Homo sapiens: one gene and its partner. The protein of the gene in region 1 purifies or fractionates together with the protein of each later gene. This does not show direct contact. Each region holds a gene or a part of one and is shown on either strand. Other genes may lie near its edges.

Evidence for each region. Proteins that work in one complex are often made in the same cells at the same time.
Region 2: the proteins of STAU1 (region 1) and IQGAP1 purify together in Homo sapiens (affinity purification with mass spectrometry; 4 studies listed by BioGRID and IntAct, with this or other methods). This does not show direct contact.

Annotation. Positions count from the first base shown.
Region 1 is NC_000020.11:49,185,335-49,193,065, forward strand, and holds the start of STAU1 (double-stranded RNA-binding protein Staufen homolog 1), read right to left. Parts: upstream 3,001-7,731; 5' UTR 2,782-3,000; intron 1,628-2,781; exon of another isoform or gene 1,405-1,627; intron 1-1,404. UniProt on the Homo sapiens protein: Binds double-stranded RNA (regardless of the sequence) and tubulin.
Region 2 is NC_000015.10:90,383,512-90,391,258, reverse strand, and holds the start of IQGAP1 (ras GTPase-activating-like protein IQGAP1), read right to left. Parts: upstream 3,018-7,747; 5' UTR 2,918-3,017; coding exon 2,863-2,917; intron 486-2,862; coding exon 386-485; intron 1-385. UniProt on the Homo sapiens protein: Plays a crucial role in regulating the dynamics and assembly of the actin cytoskeleton.

The DNA of each region.
Region 1 (7,731 bases):
CTTTTCAATTATAGTCATTAATAGCTCAAGAATTTTTGCTTTTGTACACAATAAAGCAGCAAGGTTGTATTTTGATTTTGAGGAGCTGAAGGCATTGGATCAAGAGTTAATTTTCTTCTTCTTTTCTGCTGTACAGAAATCATGTATAAACAGAGAAGGGAAGCCCAACAAACAAAAATGAGAACTATTATTCTACTAAAAGTAAATTTTGTGACCTTAATCTGGGGCAATCTGGTAAAAGTCAAAATCGCTAATGTTGTGACACAATGTTTAAGATTTGTTTCAAAATAATCTAGTTTGTGTGGGGGGATACAACATGAAACAAAACCGACCTTGGCTATGAGTTAATAATTGTCAAAGCTAAGTGAGTGACTAACACATGGGGTTCTCCATACTATTCGAGTTTCGCATGTTTTCCAGAATAAAAGGTTTTTAAAAAATGGTATTTAAAATACCATTTCCCTATTGAAATATGCCATTGTGATATGGCAGTATTAGACATGCTTTATACTGCTTGTATAGTTGTTTGCTTATGTGTTTTTTTTGTTTTGTTTTTTTGGAGAGAGTCTCTCTCTGTCGCCCAGGCAACCTCCACCTCCCGGGTTCAAGCGATTCTCCTGTCTCAGCCTCGGGAGTAGCTGGGACTGCAGGCGCCCGCCACCACACCAGGCTCAAGAGATAGTCTCCATCTCCTGACCTCGTGATCCACCCGCCTCGGCCTCCCAAAAGTTCTGGGATTACAGGCGTGAGCCACCGCGCCTAACCTGCTTATGGAGGCCTAGGAGGGTGGATCACGAGGTTAGGAGTTCGAGACCAGTCTGGCCAACATGGCAAAACCCCGTCTCTACGAAAACTACAAAAATTAACACGGCGCGGTGGCGGGCGTCTGTAATCCCAGCTACTCGGGAGGCTGAGACGGGAGAATCTTTTGAACCAGGGTGGCAGAGGTTGAAATGAGCCGAAATCGCGCCACTGCACTCCAGCCTGGGCGACAGCGTGAGACTGTCTCAAAAAAAAAAAAAAATTCAAACAAACATTTTAAATTACAAACAATGGTAAGACTGTCAGAAAATTCTAGGAAAATGTCAAAAACAAGGAGGCCACTTTGCCGCATGTGTGTTAAGAGATGGGTATAAATCAAAATAGTTTCAGTTCACTAAGGAAATTTAATGCCTAAAACAATCCTAAGATACAGGAGGATCACTCAGGTAAACACACACTCCTTACTCATATAAAATTGAACACCCATAAGTTGCATTTCCTTAGAGTACACCTATAAAACTAAGTACAGAATTTTTAAAAACCCAGTATGTTTTAGTAAAGTTGCTGTTCTAAAAATCCCACCTGTCACCAGGATAACCGAAACTGCTCCCTCTACACTCCAACTGTATTTTTAGTTTTTACCTCAACAAGTAGCAATGCAATTTACACTTGGTAAGCACGGATTCCTGAAACGCCAAAATCAACCGGGAACCTGATTTAACTCCACCACGCTCTTAACAATGAAAGCTACAAGCAGAAGAGAAGTGTGACCTTAAAAACTTCCACACAGCCGAAGAACAGTGGCAGAACAGACTGAAGCACGTATCTTCGCGGAACAGAAGAAAACTTCCACACAAGCAATACTGCAACACGGAGGCGGGGCAAGGGCTTAAAAGGAAAGTCAGCCAACAGGGAGGGGTGAATATAAGCAAAGCTTCCGTGAAAAAAAACTTATCGAGGTGTAGAGCAAGACAAGACAGACAAATTTTTCCATCTCCGTACACCCCCCTTCAGAGCCCAACACACAGCAAGTGCTCTAGATAGGTTTGCTCAACTCAAGGGAAGCTTCTGCCAGCAACTTTCCCAGAAATGGAATGACAAGAAGAAGCTGGATGATGGCGGGGCGGGGAGAAATGGACAGGTTGCTCATCCTGCGGGAGATGGTGAATATCCTGCAGTTGCCTAAGCGGAGATGGAAAGAAACAGCATCCATCGTTTACAGACTGTCAACTACAGTGTCCCAATTAAGCGTACGCCCCTTTCAGATGTTAACAACTGAAAACAATGCCCTGGCTCTGGACATGGGCACGCGGAACACTGCAGCCTCTAAGAAACCCAAACGGATAGGTAGGTCAACTTCTATCCACTCTGCCCATTAAATTATACCTTCATATCACGCTAATAAATTATGCAGACGGTTTACTGGGACACGCTGTGGGTCTGGCACTCTGATAAGCGCTTTACACGCCCCATTTCACTGAACCTTAAGAGGCAGGGACGGTATTAGCAGCCCCTTTTCCAACCAAGACACAAAGACTTTTTAAGTGTCTTGCCTAACGGGGCAGAGCCGGGTTCGGCACCCGTTTTGGACACCTGGGCCGTGCTCTTAACCACTAAGCTACAGACCTGGGCCGGCGACACTGAGAGGCTCCAGCCCTCGGGGACCTGAAGCAGGGACCCCCCCCCCCCCCCGCCTGCGCCCCAGCCCCGGGAATAACTTCGGCATCCCCGCGCGCGCCATGCGGGACGAGGAAAGGCGGCCGCAGCACCTGTTTGTGGCACCGGTGAGGGCTGGAGGGGATGGGGGCGCCCGGGGCCAGGCCTCAGGGCGCCCCGAGGCGAGGGAACGCAAGAGGACCCGCCTCCTCCGGGAAGGCCCCGCGGGCTAGAGAGAGGCCCGGGAGAAGGCGGAGGGGTGCGCGGGCCCGCCGAGGCCTAGGCCCCACCCGCCGCCCACCTCCCCACCGCGGCGGCGCCCGCGAGGGCCCCACCAGGCCCGGCCCGGCCCGGCCGCCTCACCTGGCTGCTGCTCCGAGCTCGTCCCCCGGCCGGCGGTCCTGGGCGGTGGCGGCGAGGAGGGGAAGGAAGAAGGAAAAAAGGGAGAGGAAGAAGGGACGAAGGGAGGGAAGAGGCGGAGTGGCCGTGGAGGAGGCGGGCGCCGCCGGGCCGGGGGGGGGAGGCGGTCAAAGGAAGCGGGAGCCGAGAGAGACGCGGCAGCCGCCGGCGCAAACGCTGAAGAGCCGCTCAGGCGCCCGCAGCCCGGCAGGAAGTGACGGGGGAGGGGCAGGCGCCCGCCCCCGGCCCCCGCCCGCCTCCAGGCCCGGCCCCGGCCCCACCCCCACCCACGGTCCGAACCACAAGTTCCGGCTGGCACTGCGGCGGAGCCTGCGCTCGCAAGGCACGCCGGGGGCCCAGCGGGAGGAGCGCCCTGTCCCGCCTGGACCGCAGCGGCCCGTCCTGAGTCCCGGGGCCTGCCGGGAGTTGTAGTTCTGGTGGGAGTTTCGCGCTGCCTGCTGGACTCGAAGCGGGTCTGGGAGAACCCAGCCTACCTTCTTTCCTCCTCCACTTCCTTTTTCCTTCCTTGCTGTCGCTTCTTCCTCTTGTCCTGCCTCTGGCCTTCCTTTCTCTCCTTCCTGCAGTTGTTTCTTCCTCCATCTGTAAATGTTCATTAAATGCTTGCCATATGCAAGGCATTGCTCCAAGAGCTAAGAATGTAGTGGTGAACTGACAAAAATCCCTGCCCTCGTGGAGCTTACATTCTTGTGTAAGTAAAATACACAATAAATAAAATTGAAAAATGTGTAGTGAGATAAAAGACAATGGCCCGGGCGCGTTGGCTCAGGCCTCTAATCCCGGCACTTTGGGAGGCCGAGGCGGGCGGATCACTAGGTCAAGAGATCGAGACCATCCTGGCTACCACGGTGAAACCCCCGTCTCTACTGAAAATACAAAAAATTAGCCGGGCGTGGTGGCGGGCGCCTGTAGGTAAACAGCTACTCGGGAGGCTGAGGCAGGAGAATCGCTTGAACCCGGGAGGCGGAGATTGCAGTGAGCTGAGATCGCGCCGCTGCACTCCAGCCTTGGCGACAAAGAGACACTGGTCTCAAAAAAAAAAAAAAAAAAAAAAAAAAAAAAAAAAAAAAAGACGAGAAGTGCCAGATTACTATTTATTTCACCCAGACCTAGATAAACTAAGTGGTTTTTAGCAGCTGTATTGTATGGGAGGTTGGAGAGAGGGTGGCCAGTAAAGAATCTTGGCCAGGCGCAGTGGCTCACGCCTGTAATCCCGGCACTTTGGGAGGCCGAGGTGGGCGGATCACCTGAGGTCAGGAGTTCGAGACCAGCCTGACTAACATGGTGAAACCCCGTCTCTACTAGCCGGATGCAGTGGTGGGCGCCTGTAATCACAGCTACTTGGGAGGCTGAGGCAGGAGAATCTCTTGAACCCGGGAGACGGAGGTTGCAGTGAGCCGAGATCACGCCATTGCACTCCAACCTGGGCAACAGAGTGAGACTCTGTCTCAAAAAAAAAAAAAAAAAAAAAAAGAATCTTGAACTTCTGCACACTCAGCGAAAATTATGCTCGCGTTGTGAGAGGTCCAAGAAACTGAGAATGAATGAAGGAACTGCAGGTGCACAGAGCTTCTCTCTCCCGCTCACTCTGGGACTGCCGCCCCACTATTTAAAAATAATTCTCTCTTTCTTAAATGTCTCTCAATCTAATAATTGCTCAATCTCTCTTGCCAACGGAATATAAATTCAAAATACGAGCTGCTGTGTCTGAAGAGGCCCCTCCAAACAAGGCTTTGGAGCCTTAGCGAAGCCTGGGAGGACACTTGCCTCCTTACATTGCTTCTTGTGAAGTGCAATGACACTGAATTTCAGAACACCAAAAATAGTCAAAGGACTTTCACCGTCCCTTTAGTGCCCATCCAAGACAGTAGTAAGCAACATTCAGATATTGTCCAGCCCTCTGCTAAAAGTGATCTTTTCTTTCTAACTTCCAAGCAGTGTGGATCCCATACCTCCTTGGGTAAAGGAGCAGATGCAGAGAGGTCTCCCTAAACCCAAAGCTGCGCACAATCAGACAATCTCGTCAAAGGTGATTTTGCTATCACCCATAGGGACAAAAGTGGTGGGTCTATGACTTCCAGTCTCAATTTTCTTCCCTCTTTCCTCCTTCCGCATCTTTTTTGTTTTTTTCTTGAGACAGGGTCTCGCTCTGTCACCTAACTAGAGTGCAGTGGCATGAGCACAGCTAACTGCAGCCTCAACCTCCTGAGCTCAAGAAATCCTCCTACCTCAGCCTCCTGAGTAGCTGGGACCACAGGCATGTGCCACCACTCCCAGCTAATTTTTTAATTTTTTATAGAGACAGGGTTTTACTAAGTTGCCCAGGGTCTTACTAAGTTACTAAGTTGACCAGGCTGGTCTCAAATTCTAGGCTCAAGCAATCCTCTTGCCTCAATCTTCCAAAGTACTGGGGGGATTATTCCAGGTGTGGGCCACCATACCTGACCAGGAGTAGGTCACCTAGATTTGTTTTCTTCTGTTTGTACCTAGAAACTATCAGTCAAGTTCTCTTCCAAGGTCCTGAAGACCTCTTGAGTCTTGCTAAGTAATTAAGGAATCATTTTTCTTTACCTTGAGAAAAAGATGGAAGCTGTGTGTTCTTGGTTCACAAGAAACTGTGAGCATTAAGTATGTTACGATAAATTATGTGTGTTCCTTCTCACAAGATAAATTATGTGCATCTGTACTAAGGAATGGGAACATGCAAAACTCATAAAAGCCCTGTGAGATGCTGAATTTTTTTTTTTTTTTTTTGAGACAGAATCTCACTCTGTTGCCCAAGCTGAAGTGCAATGGTGTGATCTCGGCTCTCTGATGCAAAGCTCATAAAAGCCCTGTGAGACATTTATTTTTATTTTTAATTATTTTTTTTTTTTGAGACAGAGTCTCCCTCAGTCACCCAGGCTAAAGTGCAGTGGCGCGATCTCGGCTCACTGCAACCTCCACCTCCCGGGCTCAAGCAATTCTCCTGCCTCAGCCTCCCGAGTAGCTGAGACTACAGGCGCTTGCCACCATGCCCTGTAATTTTTGTGTTTTTAGTACAGACGGGGTTTCGCCATGTTGGCCAGGCTGGTCTCGAACTCCTGGCCTCAGGTGATCCACCCGCCTCGGCCTCCCAAGGTGCTGGGATTACAAGTGTGAATGTTAACCTCTGATGAATTATCTGTTCCACTCTCATAGCCTCTTAGTAGAACTTTGCACCCTTATAATTTTCAATTATCTGTTGAGTATATCTATTAGGCTAGAACTAAGTGATCAACTTCCATGACAGCAGAGACTCAGCCTGTCTTAGTAGTCATGATGGTCCCTGGCCCATAACACAGTGCCAGGGACACAATAGTACATGATAAATTTCCGTAGACTGCTGAAAAATTACAGCCTTGCTTATCTCTGCGCAAGTCCCTAAGAAACAGGGAACACCTGTAGGGTTGATTGGTGTATGTCAGGGTCACCTGTGGTATGTGTAGCACAGGAGAACAAGGTTGAGAACTACTTGCTGGCCTAAATAAGTAATTCCCAAGCTTATTTGAGGTAGCCTGCACTCCTAGGGATATATCAGAATCTAAGAGCAACAATTAGAAGACATAAAAATATAATGGGGCCGGGCGCAGTGGCTTACACCTGTAATCCCAGCACTTTGGGAGGCCAAGGCAGGCGGATCTCTTGAGGTCAGGAGTTCGAGACCAGCCTGGCCAACATGGTGAAACCCCATCGCTACTAAACATACAGAAATTAGCCAGCCGTGGTGGTATGCAACTTTAGTCCCAGGTACTCGGGCATGTGAGGCAGGAGAATCACTTGAACCTGGGAGGCAGAGGTTTCAGTGAGCTGAGATCACGCCACTGTATTCCAGCCTAGGCAAGAGAGCGAGACTCCATCTCAAAAAACAAAATGAGGCTGGGCACGGTGGTTCACGCCTGTAATCCCAGCACTTTGGGAGGCCGAGGAGGGCAGATCATGAGGTCAGGAGATCGAGACCATCCTGGCTAACATGGTGAAACCCCATCTCTACTAAAAATACAAAAAATTAGCTGGGCGTGGTGGCAGGCACCTGTAGTCCCAGCTACTCGGGAGGCTGAGGCAGGAGAATGGCGTGAACCCAGGAGGCAGAGCTTGCAGTGAGCTGAGATCGAGTCACTGCACTGCAGCCTGGGAAACAGAGCGAGACTCCATCTCAAAAAAAAAAAAAAAAGAAAAAACAAGAGAAAAAAGATATAATGGAAGATCCCATTTACAAAGCAGTGGAAAAATAAAAATACCTAGAAATAAACTTTACAAGAAATATGCACAATCTGTGTGAAGAAAAAATGTTTAATTCTGCAAAAGAATACAGAAAAAGACTTGAACAAAGAGAAATACAGGTTATGGTATTGGCTAGGAAGGTTCCATCCAGATCATTAAGATATCAGTTGATCAAGACATTGAAGGACAGCCTGGCCAACGTGGCAAAATCCCAACTCTACAAAAAAAGTACAAAAATAATTAGCCGGGTGTGGTGGCATGTGCCTGTGGCCCCAGCTACTTGGGAGGCTGAAGTGGGAGAATCGCGTGAGCCCAGGAGGTTGAGGCTGCAGTGAGCTGTGATTGCACCACTGCACTCCAGGCTTGGAGTGAGACCCTGACTCAAAAAATACATTAAAATTTAAAAAGACATTGAATGAGATCCCAAGAAAAATAACAAACAGGATTTTGTTTTGGATCTCTATGAGCCATGTCTAAAGTCTTATGGAAAAATTAATAAGAAAAATAACCAAGAACTTTCTGAAAACTCCTGACCAAATAGCAAACATACTATTGGTAAAGCATTACCAATTAAAATAGTTAGATGCTAGTGCCTGATTAGTTCCACAATCAATGGAAGAGATATTTCCAGATAGACACAAACACATGTATGAA
Region 2 (7,747 bases), on another chromosome or scaffold:
TCTTTTCTTTTTTTTCCCCCCACCAAAAACAGGAGTTTTGTCACCCAGGCTAGAGCACAGTGGTGAGAGCACGGCTCACTGCTGCCTCGACCTCCCGGACTCAAGTGATCCTCCCTCCTCAGGCTCCCGAGTAGCTAGGACTACTGGCATGCACCACCATGCCTGGCTAATTTTTAAAATTTTTTTGTAGAGATGGGGTGTCACTATGTTGCCCAATCTGGTCTCAAACAGCTGGGTTCAAGTGATTCCCCCCCACCTCGGCCTCCCAACGTGTTGGGATTACAGGCATGGACCACTGTGTTCAGCCTCAAAGCAATCTTTATTTGTATTCACACTATTATCAGTTCCCTTCTCTTAATCTTCTCTCCAGCCAGCCAATCTTTACCTCTTCGCTTCTTCCAAATGACAAAGGTACTCATAAGCCACGTTCTGACGTCTCCTTTCATCCATCTCCTCTGCAGTAAGTCTTTCATTATCCAGGACAGCTACAACATAAAAGAAAGAATGTAAACACCAGGATCTGTAGCCTTCCTGAGTGATAAAAGATTGCCACAGAATCAATTTCCTGCCACTCACCTAGAAAGTCAGGATAACTAATGAGTGTGTAGCCAGCCAGGTGTACTACAATGACTTTCTTAAAAAAAGAACTATGTGGTTTCAACTATAATCATCTTGACCTTTTTAAAAATGTATGATAATATAAATATGTACTAAGTTTCAGTGTAATCTTGAAAAATACTGTCTTGAGATTTTGGCACAAATCTGTCCCTATCTGCCAGAACTCCTTCTAAATACAGATCTGATAATATTGTTTCCCTCTTTTATTAATGACCAAAGCCAGCAGTTATTGAGACATAAGTGGCAGTAATTGTACGAAGCATTTTACACGCATTCTCTCATTGAAACCCCACAACAATCCTGTGATTATCACTCCTATTTTACAGACGAAGAAACTGAGGCTGGGTGAACTCAGCCCCATGGCAAATAAGTGACAGGGCCTGAATCCAAACCTGGAGAGTCTGTCTCCAAAGCCTGAGCTTAACCTTGAAGCAATCTGCTTCCTTCATGGGCACCAGGTGTGGAATAAATTCCTAACTCCTTGGGAAGGCATTCAAGGCCTTTCCCAGTCTGGTCCCAACTATTTTTGGAAACTCTCCTCTTCCCTTCCTCCCACCACTGTGCAGTCTACATCACTCAGTTCCCAACACAGTATCCCTCTACTTTCAATACCTTTGTTTATGCTCTTCCCTCAGGTCCTGTCTCTTGTTCCACATGCCCTATCAAACTTTTTTTTTTTTTTTTTTGAGACAGGGTCTTGTTCTGTCACTCCGGCTCGAGTGCAGTGGCACAATCATGGCTTACTGCAGCCTCGACTTTCTGGGCTCAAATGATCCTCCTACCTCAGCCCCAAGCAGCTGGGACCACAGGCATGGGCCACCACGCCTGGCTAATTTTTTTTTTTTTTTTTAAGAGATGGAGTCTCACTGTGCTGCCCAGGCTGGTCTCAAACTCAAGGCCTCAAACTATCCTCTCACCTCGGACTCCCAAAGTGCTGGGATTACACGCAGGAGTCACTATGCCTGGCCACCTGTCAAACTTTCTACACAGCATTCTTCAAGGCTCTGTTCAAATGTCACCTTCAGGCCAGGTGCAGTGGCTCACACTTTGGGAGGTCGAGGCGTGGGGATCATTTGAGATCAGGAGTTTGAGACCAGCCTGACCAACACAGTGAAACCCTGTCTCTACTAAAAATACAAAAATTAGCCAGTGTGGTGGCCGACGCCTGTACTCGGGAGACTGCAGGAGAATCGCTTGAACCTGGGAGGTGGAGTTTGCAGTGAGCTGAGATTGCACCACTGAACTCCAGGCTGGGCGACCAGAGCAAGACCCCCTGTCTCCAAAAAAAAAAAAAAAAAAGTCACCTCCCGTGCTCATACTGTCTTCCCCAGGCCCCTTCTCCTTACCTACATTACTCTGTATGGCTAGTAAGTTCAGCATCTTTTATCATTATTGCACCTTATAATCATTAGCTTGCACACCTGACTCTCTGATTAAAACGCTCTTTGGAGACAGGGCCTGATCTTACTCATCTTTAATTTCACAAACGTGGCACAATACCTCACGTATAACTGTTGATGCGTGAAATGTTGATCCTTTAAAAAAGAACATTATTCCCACAATATAAAATAAAACCGAAAACCTCAAAATCCCAAAGGGTCCTCCTTTAGCCAATCCTGCCTGCAGTTCAATGACGTCCAGGGCCGACAACAGAAAATGAGGAAGTCAGAGGATTTTCTGCTTCTTTTTTTTTTCTTTATTACTATTTTACTTTTGAAATCTTGAGGAGGGAACTAAGCCCGAGAAAACTGAAGTGACTTGCCCAGGACGGCACCTCGTAGCTAGCCTGGGACCGGACAGGTCTGGACCCTGGTCTATCCCTTGGGTCTACCCCGCAGGCAACACTAGGGCAGCGCCTTTCCACGAAACGGGCAGAGCCCGCGTACCCAGACCCCCAATCCCCGGGACACGCCCTGCGCGGTCATCCTGCCACCTCACTCTAGGCCGTCTTCCCCAATCTCGGCCGAGCCTGGGCGGCGAGAGGCGCTGGGTGGGGCTCCCCCTACCGCGGCCCCAGCTAAGGCGGGAGGCCTCGGGGGTCCTCTCCGCCGCCTCGGACCCCGAGGGGGCGCGAACCAGGGGCCTCCCCGCCCGCCGCCCGCCGCCCCACCGGGACGGCTCTTCCGGGTCCGAGCTGCCGGCAGCCGCCCTGCCCCACCCGCCCGGCCGAGCCCCCAGGAAAATCGCGCCTCGTCTGCAATTAGCCCAGCCCGAAGCCCCCGCGCCGCGGAGCCCCGCACTCACAGCCATAGTGCGGCCGGGCCACGCCCAGCCCGTCAACCTCGTCTGCGGCGGACATGGCGGACGAGCCCGAGTCTCTGCTGAGGAAGCCGTGAAACCTTGGAGGCGCGGACGGCGGTAGCTACAGCTCCTGCCAAGTGCGCGGGCTTGCCGGGGTCCCCGAGGCCCCGCCCCGTGCCGTCAGCCCCACCCCGCAGGCCCCGCCCCAGCGGCACCGCCCCAGCGACACCGCCCTGAGCGGCCGGAAAGAGGCGGGGCCAGAGTCACCGTGCCCCGCCCCTAACTCCGCCCCCTCAGCCCGGCCCCGCCCTGCATCCCGCTATGGTCTCCGTAGGCGGAAGGAAGAAGGTAGAGCCCATCCTCCAATCGGGCTCACGCTGAGCTTGCCCTGCCGGGAATGCCCGCCCAGGTTTATAGCCCCGCCCCCAAGGCCACTGCCCTATCCGCAACTCTAACCGAAAGGCTGCCGGTGTCTGCTGCCTGAAATCAAAATAGTGGGTCATCTCCCTTCTCTTGCCGGCCCAGCTAACCTCTGCACCAATATTTGGAGAAGACACCCTTTGAGGTGACCCAGGTTGTCTTGTTGGACACAAGCAGGCCCCAAACTGCCATGAAAGCCCTCCAACCCCACTCTCCGCAGTTTGGCAACCTGGCCTCAGTCCTCTTAGATTCGGCAGCAGTCACCAGATTACCCAGGTACCCAGGTATTTGAGATGCGGATGCTAAAGCCGAACTCTGTCCAAATTCCCTACCTTTGGATCCCTTGACATTGTTCTTTGCAAGTTCTTTTTAAAATAACTCTTTTCCCGTATCAGGGATGCCTCTGCCCCCTGCACCTTGTGGCTTGCCCTTCAGATATTGGTATTCAACGGTATTCTGTCCGCAGCCCTCTTCTGTTTATTCTTTTTTCTTTTCTTTCTTTCTTTTTTTTTATTTTCTTTTTTTTTTGAGACGGAGTCTCGCTCTGTCGCCCAGGCTGGAGTGCAGTGGCGCGATCCGGGCTCACTGCAAGCTCCGCCTCCCGGGTTCGCGCCATTCTCCTGCCTCAGCCTCCCGAGTAGCTGAGTCTACAGGCACCCGCCACCGCGCCCGGCTAAGTTTTTGTATTTTTAGTAGAGACGGGGTTTCACCGTGTTAGCCAGGATGGTCTCGATCTCCTGACCTCGTGATCCACCCGCCTCGGCCTCCCACAGTGCTGGGATTACAGGCGTGAGCCACCGCGCCCGGCATTTTTTTTTTTTTTTTTTTTTTGAGACGGAGTTTTGCTCAGTCGTTCAGGCTGGAGTGCAGTGGCGCGATCTCGGCTCACTGCAACCTCCGCCTCCCGGGTTCAAGCGACTCTCCCGCCTCAGCCTCCCAAGTAGCTGGGATTATAGGTGCCCGCCACCACGCCCAACTACTTTTTTTGTATTTTTAGTAGAGGCAGGGTTTCACCATGTTGATCAGGCTGGTCTCGAACTCCTGACCTCAGGTAATCCACCCGCTTCTGCTTCCCAAAGTGCTGAGATTACAGGTGTGAGCCACCGCGCCCGGCCCTCTTCCGTTTATTCTTTGCCTACTCAGTAATCTTTTCTACACTCGCCTATAACTGCTGAGGACCCCTCGATATGTATCACCAGACCAGATCGTCTGGAAGTCCCTCAGTATTTTCAGCTAATGAACACTTTCACCTGTGTATAGGGCAGACACTTCAAATCCCACGTGTCAAATACTGACCCTGCTCCTGCTATATTCTCTATTCACAGAAGTACTCAATTCCCAGTGGGAACACCCCAGGCTCCTTGCCTCGCACCCTACATCCAATCTGTGTTTATTTCTGAGATGTCTACTTTTGTCTCCATCCCTGTTGTGATTACACTGTAGTCGCCCTTCTGCCAACTAGATCCTCACAGTTATCAGGGTGTTCTCTCTAAAGTGCAAATGCAATTGTGTTTCTCTTTTTAAATTTTTTTTTCTATTCCTCCCTTCAAGATAATGGGCCAAGTTCAGCATGATTTAGCATGCCAAATCATAGCCTGACTCCAGATGTTTTGCTCCAGCTATTTTCAATGTATTCACTCTTCCTTCAGACTATTAAAGATACTTGAAAACCTGTAAGAACAAAACACCCCTGTAGAAAAGTGGGCAAGGGTTTCATTTATTAAGCCTACAAAGTAAAAAGTTATTTCATTCTTAAGCTTTTAAGTTCACTTTACAAATTGTATTATTCTATTTATAAGTCTAGCACATTTTACCAAACACTTTTCAGAAACTGAATGATTTATTTATTTCGGAGGCGGGGGGGTCACATTTTTATTGGGGGCCACAGGGGACATGGTCTTCTCCATGTCAATGGAAGTGCTTGCAGTTTCTTCAACCACTCCATGCTTGGGCCTTGGGGGTGGCTGGGCATGTCCAGCATGTTCCCATCATCTCGGAGGGGCACTGGGTTGTTGTGGGGCGTGGCCTAGTTGATCCTGGTGGAGTACATGGTATAGGGGCAGACTGGGGTCAGATTTATAGCTAGGCCCCCGATGGTGAGGAACAGGACCAGCACCCGCTCCTTAGGCCAGGCATTCTTGAGAAAGGCAGCCGCAATGGCAACGAGGACATAGAGCATTCTGAAATTTCCTGAAAATTTTTTTTTAAGTCTCACTCAGTTAATTCAACATCTTCAAATATTTAAAATTATGCCTACTAGGGCAGGCACAGTGGCTCACACCTGTAATCCGAGCACTTTGGGAGGTCAAGGTGGGTGGATCACCTTAGGTCAGGAGTTCGAGAGCAGCCTGGCCAACATGGTGAAACCCCCGTCTCTACTAAAATACAAAAAAATTAGCTTAGTATGGTGACACACGCCTGTAGTCCCAGCTACTCGGGAGGCTAAGGCAGGAGAATCACTTGAACCCAGGAGGCAGAGGTTGCAGTGAGCCGAGATTGTGCTCCTGCAATCCAGCCTGGTTGACGGAGCGAGACTGTCTTTTAAAAAATAATAATAATTGCCGGGCACGGTGGCTCACGCCTGTAATCCTAGCACTTTCGGAGGCCGAGGTGGGCGAATCACGAGGTCAGGATATTGAGACCATCCAGGCTAACACGGTGAAACCCCAGCTCTATTAAAAACACAAAAAAAAAAAAAATTAGCCGGGCATGGTGGCGGGCACCTGTATTCCAGCTACTCGGGAGGCTGAGGCAGGAGAATGGCGTGAACCCTGGAGGCGGAGCTTGCAGTGAGCCAAGATCATGCCTCTGCACTCTAGCCTAGGCAATAGAGCGAGACTCCATCTCAAAAAAATAAATAAATAAAAATAAAAAATAATAATAAAGAATAAATTGTGCCTATTATATTGTCTATATTAGATTTCCTATTACATTTTCTTTTTTTTTTTCTTTTGAGATGGAGTTTCACTCTTGTCACCCAGGCTGGAGTGCAATGGTGCAATCTCAGCTCACTGCAACCTCCGCCTCCCGGGTTCAAGGGATTCTTCTGCCTCAGCCTCCCAAGTGGCTGGAATTACAGGCACCCGCCACCACACCTGGCTAATTTTATATATATATATATTTTTTTATTAGAGATGGGGTTTCACTATATTGGCCAGGCTGGTCTCAAACTCCTGACCTTGTGATCCACTGGCCTCGGCCTCCCAAAGTGCTAAGATTACAGGCATGAGCCACCGCACCTGGCCTAGATTTTCTTTTTAGTTCATTCAATCGTATAAAACTTTTTCAAAACTTTTTTTTTTTTTTGAGACGGAGTCTCACTCTGTCGCACAGGCTGGAGTGTAATGGCACAATCTTGGCTCATTGCAACCTCTGCCTCCTGGGCTCAAGCGATTCTCCTGCCTCAGCCTCCTGAGTAGCTGGGATTACAGGCACGCACCACCGCGCCCAGCTAATTTTTGTATTTTTAGTAGAGACGGGATTTCACCATGTTGCCCAGGCTGGTCTTGAACTCCTGACCTCAGGTGATCCACCCACCTCTGCCTCCCAAACTGCTTGGATTACAGGCGTGAACCACTGTGCCCGGCCTAGATTTTCTTTTTAATTCATTCAATTGTTTAAAACTTTTTCAAAACTTAGTAATTCCTATAAATAAACATACAAGCATAACAAAGCTAACATTCTCTTAGATGGCCTGATTCCATGTGTAAACTTAGTAAGCTTTCAACTCAAAAACCTAAGTCTAAAACTAACTCAATTACACATTTAAAATGATTTACAAAAAAGCTGTCATTCAAGTCGGCCAAATTTTCTTAAACATTGCGAATACATAAAATGTGAAATATTTCTTCTTCTTCTTCTTTTTTTTTTTTTTTTTTTGAGACAGAGTTTCACTCTGTCACCCAGGCTGGAGTGCAGTGGCGTGATTTCGGCTCACTGCAACCTCAGCCTCCCAAGTTCAAGTGATTATCCTGCCTCAGCCTCCTGAGTAGCTGGGCTTACAGGCGCACACGACCACACCCGGCTAATTTTTGTATTTTTACTGGAGGTGAGGTTTTGCCATGTTGGCCAGGCTGGTCTCGAACTCTTGACCTCAAGTGATCTGCCCACCTTGGCCTCCCAATGTGCTGGGGTTATAGGCATGAGCCACCATGCCCAGCCGAAATATTTCTTCTTAACTCCAACATATTAATCCAATTGTTCATTCCATAAAGGCTTTCTTTACTTAATTACAAAGTTTGTCTGAGGTGAAAGCCACAGAGATGTTAAGTTACCAACTGCACTGGTACCTTACTATACTAAGTGTTGCACATTTATTTTCTCAGCTGATCCTTGTAATAATCCCATTATGTCCATTTTACACTTGGGAAAATGGAGAACTGGGTTACTTACCTGAAGCCACACAGCAAGAGGCAGAGCTGGAACTCAAACCCAGGCCTGTCTAATGACAAAGCCCAATTCCTAGTCA